Homo sapiens: one gene and its partners. The protein of the gene in region 4 purifies or fractionates together with the protein of the main gene of each other region. This does not show direct contact. Each region holds a gene or a part of one and is shown on either strand. Other genes may lie near its edges. The genes, in order: GALM, PYGB, MAT1A, GALK1 and SEMA4B.

Region 1 (5,231 bases), on a different chromosome or scaffold from region 4:
TGAGAGATAGTTATTATGTTTTATTAGCATCTGATTCCAGGCACATAATCCCAATTCTCATAATTTCCTAATCAAAGATGCATTTCATTTCTGCACTCACCCCAGTCTAGTTGGATACCCTCTGAAGTACCCAGGAACCAAGCCAAGAGCAGTATCAAGAAAAGATAGATGATTATGCAGATGGCTTGAGTAAAACTTGTCTTTAGGCTCCCAGCATCCTCCCACTTCCTAGGCTCAGTACTCCTCTAAAGTTGCCAGACTTAGCAAGGAAGTACATAGGTGCCTGTATGTTATCTCATTAAGGCCCTTAATAGCTTTATCTTAATCCTTCTGCCATCAGAGCCTATTTTTTTGGGGAAAAAAATTCAGATTACTCATCAAGCCTTAGAGCAATATTTCTCTAAATCTGGTCCCAGATAATCTGCAGAAGAATAACTTGGGAACATGAAAAATGCAGATTCCTGAGTTTCACCCTAGACTTCCAGAATTAGAAATTCCAGAGGTGGGGACTGGGAATATGCATTTTAAATGTCCTCAGCAAATTCTGAGACACAATCAAGCAAGACAATTATTTAATAACCTTAGTGTCTTTCCTCTCCAACTGTACATACCTGAAGACTCCATCCTACTTGTAGAAAAGGAGATAACAAAGGTTCAGTACCTGGCATTTACAAGGACCTCAATCAATACTTGTTCCCTGAATCCCTTCTTAAAGGAACTGTGGACTTCAGGAGCCAGAAGACACCAGAGGTCCCTTTCCAGTCCCTTGAAGTAAAATAAGTCTGAGGCTGTCTCTAATCACCTCCGCACACCGAGGGCCTAATCCATCTACCTGACCCTGTCTGGTCCAAGCTCCTCGAGGCTGGCACAGCTTTGGCCGTCAGGAGAGCCTTCTGGGCAGTGGCTCTAACAGAACCATGTCCAGGACTTCATCCGTGGGACAAAAAGAGTGAATCTTCAGTAAGTCTGTGTGCAGAGAAGCCTGAGATGATTTACCTCATTTCTAAGCTACTACTGTACTTTGTTGTTGTTGTTGTTGTTGTTTTGAGACGGAGTCTCGCTCTGTCACTCAGGCTGGAGTGCAGTGGCGTGATCTCGGCTCACTGCAAGCTCCGCCTCACGGGTTCACGCCATTCTCCTGCCTCAGCCTCCCGAGTAGCTGGGACTACAGGCCCCCACCACCACTCCCAGCTAATTTTTTTTTTTTTTTTTTTTTTTTTTTTTTTTTGTATTTTTAGTAGAGGCGGGGTTTCACCGTGTTAGCCAGGAAGGTCTCAATCTCCTGACCTCGTGATCCGCCTGCCTCGGTCTCCCAAAGTGCTGGGATTACAGGCGTGAGCCACCGAGCCGGCCAACTACTGCTGTACTTCTTACCCCCTGTATCAAAGAGTTAAAATCTAATTTTTTCCCAAGATCGGTCTCACTGTAAGTCTGCTATCTGTATTTTCCCATTCTTCGTCTGATAGCCACCGACATTAATGACCAGCTCATTACATGTTGAGGTGTGGGGAGATGGGGGTAGAACCCCGTCAACCCAGGATTCGAGTTTAGAAAGACTACAAGCCCCAAAATGCAATTTCACCTCCCAAAAACTACCATTCCCAACATGCAATGCAACCAGGACGAGCCAAGGAAAAAAAGTACAAGTGTGGCTGCAAAGTTTGCCCCTCTTGTTACCCTCAGGCAAATGATTGATTTAGAAAGGCCCCAGGGGCTATTTTTTGCAGGAACGGTCACTCCCTAAATCCAGGCAGGGAAAGGGAGGAGTCTGAGCCGAGTCACGCCCCTTCTCCTGTAAACTTGGGTCGCCTCTAGCTTAGCGAGCGCTGGAGTTTGAAGAGCGGGCAGTGGCTGCACACGCCAAACTTTCCCTATGGCTTCGGTGACCAGGGCCGTGTTTGGAGAGCTGCCCTCGGGAGGAGGGACAGTGGAGAAGTTCCAGCTGCAGTCAGACCTCTTGAGAGTGGACATCATCTCCTGGGGCTGCACGATCACAGCCCTAGAGGTCAAAGACAGGCAGGGGAGAGCCTCGGACGTGGTGCTTGGCTTCGCCGAGTTGGAAGGTGGGTTGAACTGTGCCCTGGGCTGCGAGCAGGCCCCAGGCCCACGCTACATACCTCCCGGATCTAGCGGGCCACTTGCAATGCGAGGGACCAAGGGGGAAAGTCGCCTAGCTTGGGACCGTCTGACTTGCAAGCGCATGCATCATAGAGGGCCGTGTGGCCATCCAGCATTTGGGAAAAACTGTAATAAATAAACTATGGCAGTTGGCCTCTGGTTATCCGTTCAGGCTTTGCCCCAGTTAACGTAAAAGGTCAGCTGATGGTATGATACACTTCAGCGATCCTGGAGCGATCTTTGAACTGCCTAATCTTTGAACTGCCTGATACCTGGAGAAGGCTGGAGAGGAAAGAGCAGGCAAGAGGGGGTGTGGCTCCCACTTCTTCCCTTCTGAAGAAGGAAATTCAAATACTTGCCTCTTCTACTTCCTTCTTCCTTGATCAGATTCTCTTTGAGGCCTGGTTGTCTCAGAAATGCTCCACTAAGCTCAGTGGTTGCCTAGTACACCAGCTACCCAATAACCATTTAGGAACAAAATAGAGAAGACCAACTCAGTGTCTTCTCAGAGATCAGGTCTCCTACCAACTAGGATGGACTTTTATCCCAGAATCCATGGGCAATTAGGATCAGGCATTAATTAATACATTTGACAACTCTATTAATCCGATGACCTCATTAAACAGGACAGACAAGGTCCCCACTCTTGCGGTTTGGCTGGGGAGATAGACTTTAACTCAGTAATTGCATAAATAAAGAATGACAATTGCAGCTTGATTGCAGCAAAGGAAAATGTACATCATGCTCTCTTAGCACCATGGTGTAACTAGACAGAAAATGAGGTGTGAAATAAAGCTGGCAAAGGGAAACTGAGAGTTAATACTCTCTGCTCAGTGGTTGGGGCGTAGACAAATTCTGCTGGAGAGGAGGTTTGAGGTTTTCCTTTTGGTGTGTCATTCTGTCTGTTTGGTTCTTCCGATACGTAAGATATGTAACTTGGCTCATGGTTACATGTTGGCCAGACCAGCCTGGCCAGCATGGTGAAACCCTGTCTCTACTAAAAATACAAAAAAATTAGCTGAGCATGGTGGCACGTGCCTGTAATCCCAGCTAGTCAGGAGGCTGAGGCAGGAGAATAGCTTGAACCCAGGAGGCGGAGGTTGCAGTGAGCCAAGATTGCGCCACTGCACTCCAGCGTGGGTGGCAGAGCGAAACTCTATCTTAAAAAACAGAGAGCAAATTTCAATTCCTCAGGGAAAAAAACAAAACTCAGCTTTCTGTTGAACACCACCATGCCCGGCTAATTTTTTTGTGTTTTTGGTAGAGATGGGGTTTCACCATGTTGGCCAGGCTGCTGGCGGGCACCTGTAATCCCAGCTACTTGGGAGGCTGAGGCAGGAGAATCACTTGAATCTGGGAGGCGGAAGTTGCAGTGAGCCGAGATTGCGCCACTGCACTCCAGCCTGGGCGACAGAGTGAGACCCCATCTCAAAAAAATAAAAATATACTCTAACCTTTCCCTCTGCCTTTCTGTGTAACAGCTGACCATAAAGAAATTAAGACCCTCATTCCAGAGGGGTCCTGCCCCATACCCGGAGGAAGAAATGCTGCATGGGGAGGCCAAGAAAAATCTGAACACAGGCCTTGCCGAGTTTCCCCACTCACTCTATTAGCAACAGATCTTACCCTTTTGGTCCAATCATATTTCTACATGGCTGTCCATGTTCCATTGGACCTAAGCATAGAAATGGATTGTTTTCCTTGTATCTGTCGGTCTTCATTCTGAAAGCTCCCGTGTCACATAAAACTATAATCAAATAAATTTGTTTGGCTTTTTTATGTATTTTTTATTTTTTAGAGGTGGAGTCTCGCTCTGTCACCCAGGCTAGAGTGGAGTAGTGCAATTATAGCTGACTTGCAGCCTCGAACTACTGGCCTCAAGCAATCCTCCCACTTCAGCCTCCCAAAGTGCTGGGATTACAGACATGAGCCACTGTGCCCAGCTGTTTTGCTTTTCTCTTGTTACCCTGTGTTTGTTGTAGAGGTGTGGGCTGTGACTCTTACAGGGGAGATATACAACACTCTGTTACTATTTTGATGGTGCTCTGATACTACATTTCTAGTGCATTAAAACCTATGTTAACAATAAACTGGTAACAGTGGTTGTTAAGAAAGGATCCTGGGTGCCCAGGGTGCAGAGGATGGGAAGGAGACTTAATTTTCACTGCATATTCTTTTAAACCATCAGAGTATGTAAGTATATATAAACAAACAGAGGTAAATAATTTAAAGTAATAAGACTTGACAGAGGCCGGCATGGTGGCTCACACCTGTAATCCTAGGAGTCCAAAGTGGGAGGATCGCTTGAGGCCAGGAGTTTGAGACCAGCCTGAGCAACATAGTGAGACCCTGTCTCTAAAATAAATAAAAATAAATAAATAAATAAATAAATTTAAATTTAAAAAAAATTTTTTTAAATACTTGACAGAATAAGGGGTTATCTTGACATTACCATATCCCAAAAATGGTTTTGAGCCATGCGGAAGATCTGAGCGTGGATAATTCCATGAGACATGGTCCTTTTGTAACTGCAGAGTTAGATATGAACAATCTTCAATTTCCCAGACAGGTTATATAAACTGTTTGGATGACAGCCATAACCAGAGGTCAGAATGGTTCAGTTTCTCCCTGGGAAAATGGGATTTTTTTCTTTCATAGAATTCTAAAGAAGAAAATTATATAAATTTTTAGTTACAGTAAGAGAGGAGACCACCCCTCATATTGCCTTATGCCCAATTTCTGCCTCCAAAGAAAGAAGTAAAAACTAAAAGGCAGAAACGAAATCCACAGGCAGACAGCCCGGCACTACGCCATGGGCCTGGTAGTTAAAGATCGACCCCTGACCTAACCAGTTATGTTATCTATAGATTCCAGACATTTTATAGAAAAGCAGTGTGAAAATCCCTGTCCTGTTGTGTTCTGTTCTGATTACCGGTGCATGCAGCCCCCAGTCAGGTACCCCTGGCTTGCTCAATCGATCACGACCCTCTCACGCAGACCCCCTTAGAGTCGTAAGCCCTTAAAAGGGACGGGAATTGCTCACGCGGTGAGCTCGGCTTTTGAGACGCAAGTCTGCCTTCTTCAATCCGGTGTCTAAGGAGTTTTGTCTGCGG
Region 2 (3,688 bases), on a different chromosome or scaffold from region 4:
AGGAACTGCAAGTCAGTATTTCCTGTGTAGGCAAATCCCAGTTAGACTTAAGACGGCAAATGGAGATGCCGTTCCCCAGCAAGTGCCCCCTGCCCTGAGGCGGCGCCATGGGCTCTCCACTGTCTGCCCAGGAGGCCTCTCCCATGTGCAGCTCTAACTGCCCTGCGTGTGGAAGACACGTTTTAAATGCCAGTTTATTTAAAGGAGTGTTGGGTTGAAATAAGGTTTTTCTAAAATATTGTCCCAGGACATAAGTGTTGCTCACAGAGAAGCCCTGTGGCCAAATGGGCCTGGTGCAGCCTGGCTCTGACCAGCTGCGTGGGTGGGCCCCTTCGCTCCAGACAGGACCAGGTGGATGGTGCCTGGCCTCCTGCCCTGGGACTCTCCCCTCGGGACAGTGTGGGCAGGGCTCCCTGCTGCCCTGGCCCAGCCTCCTTTCTCCCATTCCAGGTTCAAGGTGTTTGCAGACTATGAAGCCTACATGCAGTGCCAGGCACAGGTGGACCAGCTGTACCGGGTGAGGCTCCTGGGTCCAGAGGCTAGGGGAGCAGCTGGGTGGGTCCATGTAGACGTGTTGGGTCAGATTGTTTATTTCCCAAGCTGAGTAGATTCTTGGCCTGGGCCAGAGGGGTTTGTGATTCTGATCTGTCATCAGTCGGCTGTGCCTGCCTTTAGGGAAGCTGTCACTGTCAATGTCACTCCCTCCGTTGAAAAAAACAGCTCCTAATGGCCAAGAAAGGAATGTGCGGCCTGGAAACTGAGTGACGGGCAGGGCCCTGGGAGGGACCTTCTCTTCCCTCAGTCAGGGCTGGCCTCGAGGAAAGGCTGGCCTGGTGTGACCTGCAGCTTGTGGCAGCTGTGAGGCTCCCTGGTGGAAGGAGACTGCCTGGGCATGTCCCCTGGCACTGGATCTGCCTGGGCAGTTCTTACCTGGTGCTATCCCTATCGTCGTCCTGGGGGCCATGCCCTAGCAGGAATTTTCGAGGCTGGGACCTTCTCTCCAGCTCCTTGCTCCCTAGATCTAGAATGCGGTAGCTTTCCTGGTCCGTGGGGTCCCCTTTTCAACGAACAAGTGATTGTAATGTCCTCCTCTTCCAGCGGATGGCCCCAAGGCTCGGAGCTCATTTGGAAACAGTCCTAAAGTTCTGGAATCCCATGTTTTTAGCAGCCCCAAGCCCTGTGACGCCAGAGACTAATTTCATCTCCTTCCCTGCAGAACCCCAAGGAGTGGACCAAGAAGGTCATCAGGAACATCGCCTGCTCGGGCAAGTTCTCCAGTGACCGGACCATCACGGAGTATGCACGGGAGATCTGGGGTGTGGAGCCCTCCGACCTGCAGATCCCGCCCCCCAACATCCCCCGGGACTAGGCACACCCTGCCTTGGCGGGACCAGCGGGCATTTGTTTTCTTGCTGACTTTGCACCTCCTTTTTTCCCCAAACACTTTGCCAGCCACTGGTGGTCCCTGCTTTTCTGAGTACCATGTTTCCAGGAGGGGCCATGGGGGTCAGGGTGGTTTTGAGAGAGCAGGGTAAGGAAGGAATGTGCTAGAAGTGCTCCTAGTTTCTTGTAAAGGAAGCCAGAGTTGACAGTACAAAGGGTCGTGGCCAGCCCTGCAGCTTCAGCACCTGCCCCACCCAGAGTGGGAGTCAGGTGGAGCCACCTGCTGGGCTCCCCCAGAACTTTGCACACATCTTGCTATGTATTAGCCGATGTCTTTAGTGTTGAGCCTCTGGATTCTGGGGTCTGGGCCAGTGGCCATAGTGAAGCCTGGGAATGAGTGTTACTGCAGCATCTGGGCTGCCAGCCACAGGGAAGGGCCAAGCCCCATGTAGCCCCAGTCATCCTGCCCAGCCCTGCCTCCTGGCCATGCCGGGAGGGGTCGGATCCTCTAGGCATCGCCTTCACAGCCCCCTGCCCCCTGCCCTCTGTCCTGGCTCTGCACCTGGTATATGGGTCATGGACCCAGATGGGGCTTTCCCTTTGTAGCCATCCAATGGGCATTGTGTGGGTGCTTGGAACCCGGGATGACTGAGGGGGACACTGGAGTGGGTGCTTGTGTCTGCTGTCTCAGAGGCCTTGGTCAGGATGAAGTTGGCTGACACAGCTTAGCTTGGTTTTGCTTATTCAAAAGAGAAAATAACTACACATGGAAATGAAACTAGCTGAAGCCTTTTCTTGTTTTAGCAACTGAAAATTGTACTTGGTCACTTTTGTGCTTGAGGAGGCCCATTTTCTGCCTGGCAGGGGGCAGGTCTGTGCCCTCCCGCTGACTCCTGCTGTGTCCTGAGGTGCATTTCCTGTTGTACACACAAGGGCCAGGCTCCATTCTCCCTCCCTTTCCACCAGTGCCACAGCCTCGTCTGGAAAAAGGACCAGGGGTCCCGGAGGAACCCATTTGTGCTCTGCTTGGACAGCAGGCCTGGCACTGGGAGGTGGGGGTGAGCCCCTCACAGCCTTGCCCCTCCCCAAGGCTGGCAACCTGCCTCCCATTGCCCAAGAGAGAGGGCAGGGAACAGGCTACTGTCCTTCCCTGTGGAATTGCCGAGAAATCTAGCACCTTGCATGCTGGATCTGGGCTGCGGGGAGGCTCTTTTTCTCCCTGGCCTCCAGTGCCCACCAGGAGGATCTGCGCACGGTGCACAGCCCACCAGAGCACTACAGCCTTTTATTGAGTGGGGCAAGTGCTGGGCTGTGGTCGTGCCCTGACAGCATCTTCCCCAGGCAGCGGCTCTGTGGAGGAGGCCATACTCCCCTAGTTGGCCACTGGGGCCACCACCCTGACCACCACTGTGCCCCTCATTGTTACTGCCTTGTGAGATAAAAACTGATTAAACCTTTGTGGCTGTGGTTGGCTGACATGGGGTCTGTGTTTCACTAACTAACTAACTAACTGCAGGTGGTGGTATGAGACTGTGGGAAGCAGAGAACACAGGCCTGAGGCCCAGGGTGGTGCCAGTGCAGGGATGAGACCTGCAAGTGGGCCACAGGTCCCCCGTCTGAAACTAGAGCCGGGGCTGAATTACACCCCATCATTCTGGGATTGAGGGCAGAAAAGTTTGCATCTCCACTAGGTGTGGAACCCGGGGTCATGTGTGCCTGAACGGCTAGTTTTGTTTTTTTGTTTTTGAGATGGAGTTTTGCTTTTGTTGCCCAGGCTGGAGTGCAGTGGCACGGTCTTGGCTCGCTGCAACCTCCGCCTCCTGGGTTCAAGCAATTCTCCTGCCTCAGCCTCCCGAGTAGCTGGCATTACAGGCGCCCACCACCACACCCGGCTAATTTGTGTATTTTTAGTTTTGCCATGTTGGCCAGGCTGGTCTCAAACTCCTGACCTCAGGTGATCCGCCCGCCTCAGCCTCCGAAAGTGCTGAGATTACAGTTGTGAACCACTGTTCCTGGCCAAGCTAGCTATTTTCTAAAAATTCTATCAATCAATCAAATCCAGCCATTACTAAACATGCTATCTGGGGATAAGAAACACACACACCTTTCTGGTGTGACTTGTGCTGGTCCCTTTGCACCTGCAACTTTTGTCTCCCACTCCTGGCCCTGGGGACCAAAGCATCGCCCATCAATTGTACAGTTGCAGATTAAGAAATCAGGAGAAATGAGCCTAGGGCTCTGTGCTACCCTGAAGACCCAAGAACTGGGATGCTGGAGTGCCATGGGCCTCCTTGGCCTCAGACCT
Region 3 (4,474 bases), on a different chromosome or scaffold from region 4:
TTCAGTGGTAGAAGTGTGTAGAGGCTAAGGGCTCAGACAAACCTAAAGGTACTACCAGGGTCTGCCACTGGCAGGAGGCTAGATTAAACAAACAAACAAACAAACAAAACACAACCTCAAACATATGTTTAGCAGTAGTTTCTAAAGGAAAGATTAAGGAATTAATGAATATCTTTAATTACAGAATTTAACATCTGCTTTTGAGAGCCAAACTGCTTGATTCTGGATCTGGATTCTTAACAAAAACATATTACTCTATTAAGAGCAGACTGTGGGTATTTTTAACACTGAATGAGCTATAATATATGTAGATAGAGATCACTTTTATTTCTTAATTTGTAGATATTGACAGTTTGCATAACCCCAAAGCAAGAGTAGATTTTCCTACAAGCACCATTTAGTGCTTTACATTTTAGACCCTGCAGAGTCTTTAAGGCAAATAGTGGAAGAATAAAATCAAATTCCAGCTCATGTTGAACCCTTGTCAGTCCTACAGTAATTGAAGAGGTCAAGCCCAGCTCTAAGGACACCTGGCTTTCGGGAGGCTGAGTGACCATGTGGGAGATCTGAGAGCTGCTTATGGAAGTATTCTGCAAAACAACAATGATGTATAGGGGTTATCTTGTAGAATTCTTATGGGTGGAGTCATGTACTTGGGTGTGGTGTTTTATATACGGTGCATTGCATCTTGTGGAACCTGCCATGCAATGCAGCTGTTTGAGCCGTCTGATTTTACCTCTTGGCAAAGAGGTAAAATTGACTTCTTAACTATTTTTAAGTTCATTTTCAGGACTTTTGTAGATGTTAGAATTAAAGGGAACATGATGAGGAATGAGAGATTTTTTATTTAGAAGAATGCGTGTGTGTTTGTTTATGTGTGAGTTGCGTTAGACTCCTAGAAGAGCTGATTTTGACCGGGCGCAGTGGCTAACACCTGTAATCCCAGCACTTTCAGAGGCTGAGGTGGGCGGATCACTTGAGACCAGGAGTTCAAGACCAGCCTGGCCAACATGGTGAAACGCCATCTCTACTGAAAATACAAAACAAATTAGCCAGGCGTGGTAGCACAAGCCTGTAATCCTAGCTACCTGGGAGGCTGAGGTGGGAGGATTGCTTGAACCCGGGAGGTGGAGATTGCAGTGAACCGAGATCACACCACTGCACTCCAGCCTGGGTGATAGACTGACACTCCATCTCAAAAAAAAAAAAAAGGTATTTCTTTTTTAGGGCATTCTATGACTTTATATAATACGTGTCATCCAAAATTAGGCAGGAATGGAAATAAATAAAAATTTCAAAGTATTTCTAATTTCTTATACTTAAAAAAAGTGTTTTCCCTCTGGTAGATAAGTTGATATGTAAACTGAAAAGTCGATATCTAATTATTTTAAGATTTCAATTTGTTATCCCGAATATTTTTGTGATTCTGACCCATATTTGCTCTTGTCCAGATAAGATCTGTGACCAGATCAGTGATGCAGTGCTGGATGCCCATCTCAAGCAAGACCCCAATGCCAAGGTGGCCTGTGGTAAGAAACACCCGATCCCTCCCTGCTGGAGACCTAAGTGGGCTAGACTGAGAAATTAATCATGGGTATAAGACAAACGAGCCATACTCCTCAGTTCCAAAATCCATGTCCTCTGCTCTGCAGTAGATTTCTCAATTATGAGACCTCCCCTGTGTAGTAACAGGGAGGAAAAACATTTCTAACCATGAAACAAATAGATAATTATTTTTAGCAAGAATCTAACGTTAAATGTCATAGCAACCATAAATAGCAGAGGGTTGGACCAGCACATGGCCTTTCTGATGCTTGATCTCATTGGGAACAAGGAGGTCTTTCAAAGTTCTTAGGTGAATCTTCCAGACGGGATGCAAGAGCTTGAAACACAGGTAGCTGCCTAGATGGTTATAAGCTGCATCCTCATTGTAGGAGCCTTTGTTGGCTGCACAGATACCTGGCTTCTTCTCTTGTTTTCTTTCCTAGTTTGTGGTATGATTTAGGTTTTAAAATAATTAGTGTCCCCCATTTAATAGCAACAGGAAGGCAACATCTTCACCAATTGTTTTTCAATAAATCAATGGCTTTCCTAAGAGACATTAATGTTAAACTAAAGTACTGAAGCCCTGGCTCCCATCTGCATAATTTATTGTGTCTGAAGACTCATGTAGGCTGAAGATCTTCACCTTTATTTGTGGGATAAGTTGTTTGGCAGGAAAACCTTTGCCTGGCTTGAAGCCTGTGGCACAGTGGCAGAGTCATGGACTCTGGAGTCTGGAGGGGCCCCAGGGTGATCAGGTCCAGCCTGTTCATTTTAGAGACAGGATCACGGTACCCTCTGCATCAGGGCCTGGCCAAGGCCATGGGGTAGGGTGCCCCAGTGTGAAGACCAGAGCCTTGCTCTCCTTACTGTCATTGTCATGTCTTGTCCACTGCACAGACCCATCCTTCCCTCTCTGGTTGCATCCTCAGCCCTGTATTGAATACTACAGGGACTCATGCCCCTCTGAAGGTAGATTCTACCCTTATATCTTTGTAAATATCTGGAGAGAAGGTTGGCCTGCTTTGATTTTTTTTGGTCCAGATCCCACTCCCTAAAGCCTGCAGTGGAGGTTTAGCAATGTGGGGGATGGGGGGTCACATGTGTGGACTACCTTCTTTATGACAGCTACATACAACCATCATCTCCCTTTAATCCACATAGCAGTCTTATAAATAGCTTTATTAAATAGATGAGGGAACAGAGACTTAGAGGGGTTAAATAAGTTGTCCAGGATCACAGCTTATGACTGACTCTTTCCAAGACAGCATTGGAAGATGCTCAGTGCTTGGTGCTGGGATTTTTTCTTTTTATTGGCGTTTCTATTTTCCTTCTGGAATCCATTCCTCGTAAGGCCCCTCCTGTGTCTTTTCTGTCTGCACTGTGAGAGGTCTGGGAATGTGAGCTTCCCTTTGCTGGCACTTGGCTGCTAACTCTCCTCGCTCCCCGCTCCCTTTCAGAGACAGTGTGCAAGACCGGCATGGTGCTGCTGTGTGGTGAGATCACCTCAATGGCCATGGTGGACTACCAGCGGGTGGTGAGGGACACCATCAAGCACATCGGCTACGATGACTCAGCCAAGGGTGAGGGCAGGCCTCCGGGTCTGAAATCCCTGTTGCTCTCTGCTGATAGAGACCCCAGTGCTGAGTCAAACCCGTGCCTTTCAGCCCGATGGGAGCATCAATACTACCAGGAGGAAAACACTCCTACACTTGTCTGTCAGGTTCCAGGGGTCAAAGACTCTGGCATAAGGATGGCCAACAGGCGACTATGCCCAGTGGGCCCAGCACATGCCCATCTGTTGTTGATTGGGCTTGTTTTAGGCCTTGCCTTCTTGGCGCTGCCAAAGGCTTTGGAAGAGAAAGATGCACTGAATAAAGGGGGCTGCCCTCCTTTGGGGACATGCTCGCTGCCAGGCACTGGTGATAGTCTCTTGTGTTGTCTTAATCATTTATGTACTTATGCAGACGAGGAAATGGAGGCCTAGAGGGGTAAACAGTCTGTGTGAGATCACAGGGTAAGCAGCCACTAGGCTGAGGACTCCTGTGCTTCCACTAAACCTACTTGCAATCATAGACATGGAGCAAGATGACTCAGTCCAGAACTGGTGCTGACAGCAGGCGAGGCTGGTCCAGGTTAGCACCAGTGCTACATAGTGTGGGGCCACCACCCAGGGAAGGGGCACAGGCCCTAGCAGAACTTTGAAGCAGATTCCAACATCTGAGACTGAGCAGGCCAGGCAGCGGCACAGCCTGGAGGGCAGCAAAGGACCCAGAGAGCAGACACCAGGTGCGGAGGGCCTGTATGCGATCACATTCTGCAGGAGCTTCAGGGGCCCTTTGTCCATGCTGGCTTCCTGGGCAGGGCTCTGGCCCCAATTCTTAGAGTCTCCACGTTGGTCTCTGGCATTAGATGTTCAGGCAATTCTAATTTTTAAAGAAAAATTCATTTTGGGTCTCTGTTAGCTCTTTCCCTAATTCTCTGAAATCACTGTGAGAGATGTGATGACCTCACGCCATGGCAAAAAGACCCACTTCCAGGTCATCCTGCCTAGCTATACACCTGTAATCAAGATGCACAGAGAGAAGCATGACTTTAAAGGTGTTCATTTCTGCCTGTGTCACATAATCGTTGTCTAGGGTGATGTGTAGCATCCTGTGGGTCAGGGTGCTGGACCCCCGTTTGTAAGTGAGAGAGCCCACTCATGGTATGATGGTGCAGACTCGCAGAGGTTCAGTCCAGCCATGGCCTGGTGCAGCCCAAAGCACTCATGAGCAATTAATATTGGTTGAGTGCATGACAGTGATTTTGAGACTCAGTGGGAAGAGAAGCAGTAAGAACCAGTTAATTCTCCTGGTCGGGACATGAGGGTATTCACAGAGGAAACACATTGTCCCAGAGCTGCAGCTTCCTGAGGCGTTACCACACGGAG
Region 4 (3,373 bases):
TGTAGAAAAGTACAAAGTAGAAAATAATAAGCTATAAGGCCACTACCCAGAGATAGCCACTGCTGACATTTTCACGTTTCCTTTCAGTATTTTTCCACATCTGTCTTCAAAGCTGAGTATATGTAATATATCATCACTTTCCCCCCCCACCCCCTTTTTTTTAAGAGGCAGGGTCTCATTCTGTTGCCCAAGCTGGAGTGTAGTGGTGTGATCATAGCTTACTGCAAACTTGAACTCTTGAGCTCAAGGGATCCTCCCAGCTCAGCCTTCCAAGTAGCTGAGATTACAGGTGTGCCACCATGCCCGGCTAATTTTTATCTTTGTAAAGACGGTCTTGCAGTGTTGCCCAGGCTGATCCTGAACTCTGGCCTCAAGTGGTCCTCCTGCCTTGGCCTCCCAAAGTGTTGGGATTATAGGCATGAGCCACTGCGCCCAGCCCATTTGCCGTGTTTTTTTTTTGGACACAGAGTTTCGGTCTTGTCACCCATGCTGGAGTGCAATGGTGCGATCTCAGCTCACTGTAACCTCTGCCTCCCGGGTTCAAGTGATTCTCCTGCCTCAGCCTCCCGAGTAGCTGGGACTACAGGCGCCCGCCACTACGCCTGGCACATTTTTTATAGTTCTAGTAGAGACTGGGGTTTCACCATGTTGGCCAGGCTGGTCTCAAACGCCTGACCTCAGGTGATCCTCCCGCCTCAGCCTTCCAAAGTGCTGGGATTACAGGCGTGAGCCATAGTGCCGGTCTCTTTTTTTTTTTTTTTTAAACTAAACATAATCTCAGAACCCAGAACCCTATCTTATCTTATGCCATGAAAGGCATATCTCGGTGTGGCTCTTTTTTTTTTTTTTTCTTTTTTTTTTGGTGAGGTGGAGGCTTGCCCTGTTGCCCAGGCTGGAGTGCAGTGGCGCAATCTCGGCTCACTGCATCCTCCACCTCCTGGGTTCAAATGATTCTCCTGCCTTAGCTTCCTGAGTAGCTGGGATTACTGGCACCCACCACCACGCCCAGCCAATTTTTATATTTTTAGTAGAGACGGGGTTTCATGTTGGCCAGGCTGGTCTCGAACTCCTGATCTCGTGATCTGCCCGCCTCAGCCTCCCAATGTGCTAGGATTACATGTGTGAGCCACTGCACCTGGCCTCCGTGTGGCTCTTTAAAGCTCCACAATATTTTAGCATTCAGGTGCTCTGTCATTTACTTAACTATTTTCTGATACACCTCACACTGTGATTAACTTTTTTTATTTATCTTTTTTATTATTTATTTATTTATTTATTTGAGACAGAGTCTTGCTCTGTCACCCAGGCTGCAGTGCAGTGGCACGATCTCGGCTCACTGCAACCTCTGCCTCCCAGGTTCAAGTGATTCTCCTGCCTCAGCCTCCTGAGTAGCTAGGATTAGAGGCATGTGCCACCACACCTGGCTAATTTTTGTATTTTTAGTAGAGATGAGGTTTTACCATGTTGGTCGGGCTGGTCGTGAACTCCTGACCTGGTGATCTGCCCACCTCAGCCTCCCAAAGTACTGGGATGACAGGCATGAACCACTGTGCCTGGCCATCTTTTTTATTTTTTAAAGAGATGGGTTCTGCTAAGTTGCCCAGGCTGGACCTGAACTCTTGGGCTCAAGTAATCTTCTCACCTAGTCTCCTGGGTAGCTGCAACCAAAGGCACCCGGTTTATCTGCATTCTCTTTTTTTTCTTTGAGACTGAGTCTTGCTCTGTAGCCCAGGCTGGAGCGCAGTGGCGTGATCTCGGCTCACTGCAACCTCCGTCTTCAGGGTTCAAGCAATTCTCCTGCCTCAGCCTCTGGAGTGGCTGGGACTACAGGCGTGTGCCACCAGAGCGAGTTAATTTTTTTTTTTTTTTGTATTTTTAGTGGACACTGGGTTTCACTATATTGGCCAGGCTGGTCTTGGACTCCTGACCTCAAGTGATCCGCCTGCCTTGGCCTCCCAAAGTGCTGGGATTACAGGCACAGGCGTGAGCCACTACACCTGGCCTATCTGCATTCTCTTAATAGTTTCTTAGAAATGGATTCTTAGGAGTAGGATTACAGAGTCAAGAGACACAAGTATTGTAGGCTGGGTGCGGTGGCTCACGTCTGTGCCTGTAATCCCAGCACTTTAGGAGGCCAAGGTGGGCAGATTCATTGAGCTCAGGAATTCGAGACCAGCCTGGGCAACATGGCAAAACCCCATCTCTAAAGAAATACAAAAATTAGCCAGGTGTGGTGGTGTGTGCCTGTAGTCCTAGCTACTTAGGAGGCTGGGGTGGGAGGATCAATTGAGCCCAGGAGGTTGAGACTGCAGTGAGCTGTGATTGCACCATGGCACTCCAGCCTGGGCCTCAAAGTGAGATCCTGTCTCCAAAACAAAAAAGATACAAGTATCCTTAAGGCTCCTGCTACACATGGCCAGGAAGGTAGTCTATTGGACAGTTTTAAGGTCATTATCAATATTAGCTCATTTAATTCCCTCCAAAACTCTGTAAAGCACATTCTGCTACCATAGTTGTCATATTTTTGATGGGGGAATCTACAGTGAGAGGCAGTGCTGGGATCTGAACCCCATCTGGACAGATTAGCTCCAGGGCCCATGCTCTTGACTGGCTGGCCGTGCTGCCCACACTGAGTTGTTCCTTCCTGGCAGTGTAGGTGTGCCTATCTCAGGGACACTAGACAGCTCCGAGGGACCTCCCTGTCCTTTTCCTTTGTGAACTGTGTCACGTTCTCCAGAGCAGTGCTCAGACCTGCCCTGCCTGCTCTGTGCAGATGCCCTTGGCCAAGGTTTTCACACTGGAACAAGTTGGTCCCTCCTCCCCACCCCAGCCTGTCCTTGCCCCTCCTCCAGGTCTCCTTCTGCATAGGAGCAGCTCACCCTGCCTCCTCCAGAGTCCTGCCCTAGAAGCGCAATCCCTCTCCTTCCATCCCCTGCCTGGCTGCCTGGCTCCTTCCCTCAGCCTCCAAGACATGCTCAGTTTTCTTCCCTCCTAAAACACCACCCACTGTCTCATTTCCATTCATTTCTTTCTTTCTTTCTTTCTTTTTTTTTGAGAGGGAGCCTCACTCTGTCACCCAGGCTGAAGTGCAGTGGCATGATCTCCACTCACTGCAACCTCCGCCTCCCAGGTTCAAGCAATTCTCCTGCCTCAGCCTCCTGAGTAGCTGCGATTACAGGCGCCTGCCACGATGCCCGGCTAACTTTTGTATTTTTAGTAGAGACGGGGTTTCGCCATGTTGGCCAGGCTGGTCTCGAGCTCCTGACCTCAGGCAATCTGCCTGCCTCAGCTTCCCAAAGTGCTGGGATTACAGGTGTGAGCCACCGCGCCCACCCATTCATTTCTCAGTCCTTTGAATCTACTTGCCCCTCCA
Region 5 (4,474 bases), on a different chromosome or scaffold from region 4:
CATGCCTGGCTAATGTTTTTTGTATTTTTAGTAGAGACGGAGTTTCACTATGTTGGCCTGGCTGGTCTCGAACTCCTGAGACACTCAGGAGACCATGAGGTGGAGACCTTGTGATCCACCTGCCTCAGCCTCCCGAAGTGCTGGGATTACAGGCGTGAGCCACTGTGCCAAGCCTGCTTTTTCACAATTAAATCTCCAGTACCTAAAAGTACATGGACACAGAGTGCATGCTTCATCAATGTTAGCTGAATAACAGAATGGCAGCCAGGACTTGAACCTGTGTCTTGATCCCAAGTCCAGCACTCGTTTGCCCTCACCTTACCCAGCACCTGCTGCACTTAGGAGCAGGAGCAGGAGGCCTCTAGGGATGATGATGAGTCCTCCAGGAGAACCTGGGTTGAACCAGATTTCATCCTGTGCTTTGGCCAAAACCACACCAGAATCTGTCAGATGTGCTACATCAGGAACCATCTGCAGAGGGACACAACTCTCACCCCACCCAATCTCTGTTCACGCTGGAAGCTGACTTGTTAGGTCTTGTATCTATGAGCCAGGTGCCTTACACCTATTAGCTTCCTGAATCCTCACTGTAAGCCCAGTGAGACCGGATCATTATCCCCATTTTACAGGTGGGCCCACTAAGGCTTAGACAGGTGAATCTACTTGTCGAAGGTCGTAGCGATGTAAGTGTAGTGCTGGGATTCAAACCCAGGCCGGGTAATCTCAGAAGCTTATGCCCTTCCCACCATACCTGGCTGTATCTGCTCCCACCTCCCGCCTCTGGCCTGGATGGAAGTCCACCACCCTCCATCCCTCCTGCAGCTCAGCTCCCTTCCAGGTGTGGGCTCACCTGTGGGTCCTTGCCCTTGAAGCTGCACTGCTGTTTCTTCTCTGCGTCTGCACCCCAAAGCAGCTGGGGAATGAGAAAGGGGAAGGTAGTGGACAAAATGGAGGGTTTGCTGAGCCTCCCTCCTCTCCCATAGGCATCATCCTTGGACCCAGAAGGTCAAGCTTCCCGTCCATCTTCCCTCTGTGGTCCTCTGCCCAGCCTAGCCAGCTCCAGGCAACATCTCTCACCTCCTGGTACTCCCCGCCTGGCAGGAAGCTGAGGTTGCTACTGAGTGCAAAGAGGGCCTCTCGAGCACCCACGTACAGGGTCCTGCCATCCCTGCTCAGCAGAAGGGCTGTGTAGTTGGAGATGTGTTCAGCTTCGAATCTGAGGAATGGCCGCTCTTCAGAGCCTGGGGAGAGGAAGATGGGTATTACCTGGGGCCACCCCTCCCATGGGAAGCCTCTTAACACCAACCTTTAGATGGACTGGTTTAAAGGAAGGTAATCAGCAAGGCAAAGGGTGGCAATGGCAAGGGGCTGGGGGCAGGGGGATCAGGTTTGATGGGCGAGCAGCATTCCTGGACTCTCAAACATTACATAAGAAATGATGCAGAGATGTATGTACAAGGATACTTACTACGGCACCCTTCACATTAATAAAAAACTGAAAACCAAAGAGTCCGTCCAACCAGAGGGGACCTTGTCAAAATAAATTATGATGCCTCAATCCAACTGAATACTATACAGCTGGGAAAAAAAATGATGTATTAGAAGCTCCAGAAAAACAGGCAAGAAAGGCATGGTCAAAATATCAAGCAAACTAAAATATAAAGTGATGAGTTTTGAGCACATAATAGAATATTAAGAAAGGAAAATACATTTAACACTTTCCTTTGAGTGACATTAGACCCAAAGAGAAGGAAATGTTAAGTGGGCCCTGCAGTGAATGCTATTTGCATTGACAGAGTAATGCAAATGTTGAGCATGGGCTTTTCTTTTTTTTTTGAGACGAAGTCTCGCTCTGTTGCCCAGGCTGGAGTGCAGTGGCATGATCTTGGCTCACTGCAACCTCCACCTCCTAGGTTCAAGTGATTCTCCTGCCTCGGCCTCCCAAGTAGCTGGTATTACAGGCATGCACCATCACACCCAGCTAATTTTTGTATTTTTAGTAGAGACGGGGTTTCACCATGTTGGCCAGGCTGGTCTCAAACTCCTGAACTCAAGTGATCTGCCCGCGTCAGCCTCCCAAAAAAGCACTGGTCTTTGAGACTGATGGTTATTACACAGAATGGGAGTGTTTTCAATTTTGACCTCAGAAACCAGAACTGATGACAGACAGACATCATAATATGGTAGCAGGGTTGTCACAAGCTGCTGCCAATGGCTAATGGAATAATAAATACAGGTCAAGTGTACTGTTTTATATTGCAAAGGTAACCAATAAAGGAAGTGAATACAGTACGGTGACAGAATATGTTGGGGGGAGGAATGGAAGGGAGATGTAAGTGAGGGAAAGTTAGGAATTCAAATAAGCCAAGAAATAGTGGTGTAAGTATTTTACTTAAAAATATGGAGGAAATGGGCTGGGCGTGGTGGCTCACACCTATAATCCCAGCACTTTGGTGTGGATCACCTGAGTTCGAGACCAGCCTGACCAACATGGAGAGATCCCGTCTCTACTAAAAATATAAAATTAGCCAGGCGTAGTAGCACATGCCTGTAATCCCAGCTACTCGGGAGGCTGAGGCAGGAGAATCGCTTGAACCTGGGATGCAGAGGTTGCGGTGAGCTGAGATCACACCATTGCACTCCAGCCTGGGCAACAAGAGTGAAACTCCATCTCAAAAAGAAAAAAAAAAAATGGAGGAAATAATGGTAGAACAAGAACCCTAAGAACCCTAAATGATTAAAAGTCCCTTTTAAATTGGCCTGGGGTGAGGGAGGACAGACGTTTTTGCTTTTTATAATAAGCCCTTCTATACTTAAAAATATATATATACGTGCATGTATCCTTGATACAAATTTTATTTATTTTTTGAGACTGAGTCTCACTCTGTTGCCCAGGCAGGAGTGCACTGGCATGATCTCGGCTCACCGCAACCTCCGCCTTCCAGGTTCGAGCAATTCTTCTGCCTCAGCCTCCCGAGTAGCTGGGATTACAGGCATGTGCCACCATGCCCGGCTAACTTTTGTATTTTTAGTAGAGACAGGGTTTTGCCATGTTGGCCAGGCTGGTCTCGAACTCCTGGCTTCAAGCAATCCGCCTGCCTCAGCCTCCCGAAGTGCTGGGATTACAGGTGTGGGCCACTGCGCCCAGACCTTGGTACACATTTTAAGTAGCTTTTGTTTTTGCAGAATAACAACAAGGAAAGACACGAATTATCTACCATGAAGTGAAAATTCAGGTTATATTTAGTATGTATGGTCAAATTCTATTTTTTGTGGGAAAAATATAAGCATAGGAAAAAAATCCAGAAGGATGTATCACAAAACACTAAAACATGGGCTCCCTGGTAGAATTACAGGTAGCTTTCTTTTCTTTTTTACTTGTTATCATTTTTAGATTCTCTAATAAGCAGGTTATCCTTATATAATGTGAAATATATAAATCAAAGAAAAAAAAAAAGAAACACACACACACTTACCCACCAGGGTACTGTTTATGCTTTGGGTAACTAAAGGGTTTGGAGAGAAATTATTTTTAAAATTCTAAGCAGCTGATGAGAACACAAAAACAAGCAAAGAGCAGCACCCTGACCACCCTCAGGCACGTTGTAGCGGACCAGTGGGTTATGACCACACAAACAGTCTCACGAAGCTGAGGAAGCAAAAAGTGCAACACGCCCAATCAAGCAGCTGTGAAGATGACTTCATGTGTGTTTACCTGTGGAGTGTTTTTACATACCCCCAGCCTGGTTCCATAAAGGGTGGGGAGACATGAAGAAAAGAAAGTAGTGAAATATAAACATTAAAATCAGGAGCAGAGAAAACCCAAATCTGAAGAAAAACATCTCCATCAGCAAGGAAGTAAAAATTCACGAGTAGGTCAATGAGTCTTCGCACAGCTGGTAGAGAAGGGCTGAGCCTTTAGTGCTGGGCCTCCTGGTGGCCAAAGAAAAATGGGAAATGAAGCTACTCCATCCTCAATGTCCATAAGGAGGAACACATATCAGCCATTTGGGGGAAGCTCAGCCTTTTTTTTTTTTTTTTTTTTTGAGATGGTGTTTTGCTGTTGTTGCCCAGGCTGGAGTGCAATAGCACAATCTTGGCTCACCGCAACCTCCGCCTCCCAGGTTCAAGCGATTCTCCTGCCTCAGCCTCCTGAGTAGCTGGGATTACAGGCATATGTCACCACGCCCGGCAAAGTATTTTTAGTAGAGACGGGGTTTCTCCATGTTGGTCAGGCTGGTCTTGAACTCCTGACCTCATGTGATCCACCCGCCTCGGCCTCCCAAAGTGCTGGGATTACAGGCGTGAGCCACCACGCCCAGCAGCTCAGCCCTTTTTTTTTTTTTTTTTTGAGACGGAGTTTCTCTCTTGTTGTCCAGGCTGGAGTGCAATGGTGCAACCTACACCTCTCAGGTTCAAGCGATTCTCCTGCCTCAGCCTCCCAAGAAGCTGGGATTACAGGTGCCTGCCACCA

What was found.
Region 1: the proteins of GALK1 (region 4) and GALM fractionate together in Homo sapiens (co-fractionation; one large-scale study listed by BioGRID). This does not show direct contact.
Region 2: the proteins of GALK1 (region 4) and PYGB fractionate together in Homo sapiens (co-fractionation; one large-scale study listed by BioGRID). This does not show direct contact.
Region 3: the proteins of GALK1 (region 4) and MAT1A fractionate together in Homo sapiens (co-fractionation; one large-scale study listed by BioGRID). This does not show direct contact.
Region 5: the proteins of GALK1 (region 4) and SEMA4B fractionate together in Homo sapiens (co-fractionation; one large-scale study listed by BioGRID). This does not show direct contact.

Annotation. Positions count from the first base shown.
Region 1 is NC_000002.12:38,664,289-38,669,519, forward strand, and holds the start of GALM (galactose mutarotase), read left to right. Parts: upstream 1-1,825; 5' UTR 1,826-1,873; coding exon 1,874-2,063; intron 2,064-5,231. UniProt on the Homo sapiens protein: Mutarotase that catalyzes the interconversion of beta-D-galactose and alpha-D-galactose during galactose metabolism.
Region 2 is NC_000020.11:25,295,154-25,298,841, forward strand, and holds the end of PYGB (glycogen phosphorylase, brain form), read left to right. Parts: intron 1-450; coding exon 451-517; intron 518-1,216; coding exon 1,217-1,369; 3' UTR 1,370-2,859; downstream 2,860-3,688. UniProt on the Homo sapiens protein: Glycogen phosphorylase that regulates glycogen mobilization. Phosphorylase is an important allosteric enzyme in carbohydrate metabolism. Enzymes from different sources differ in their regulatory mechanisms and in their natural substrates.
Region 3 is NC_000010.11:80,282,567-80,287,040, reverse strand, and holds part of MAT1A (S-adenosylmethionine synthase), read left to right. Parts: intron 1-1,451; coding exon 1,452-1,529; intron 1,530-3,002; coding exon 3,003-3,125; intron 3,126-4,474. UniProt on the Homo sapiens protein: Catalyzes the formation of S-adenosylmethionine from methionine and ATP. The reaction comprises two steps that are both catalyzed by the same enzyme: formation of S-adenosylmethionine (AdoMet) and triphosphate, and subsequent hydrolysis of the triphosphate.
Region 4 is NC_000017.11:75,759,108-75,762,480, reverse strand, and holds part of GALK1 (galactokinase), read left to right. Parts: intron 1-3,373. UniProt on the Homo sapiens protein: Catalyzes the transfer of a phosphate from ATP to alpha-D-galactose and participates in the first committed step in the catabolism of galactose.
Region 5 is NC_000015.10:90,214,206-90,218,679, reverse strand, and holds part of SEMA4B (semaphorin-4B isoform 1 precursor), read right to left. Parts: intron 3,744-4,474; exon of another isoform or gene 3,716-3,743; intron 1,242-3,715; coding exon 1,078-1,241; intron 914-1,077; coding exon 851-913; intron 1-850. UniProt on the Homo sapiens protein: Inhibits axonal extension by providing local signals to specify territories inaccessible for growing axons.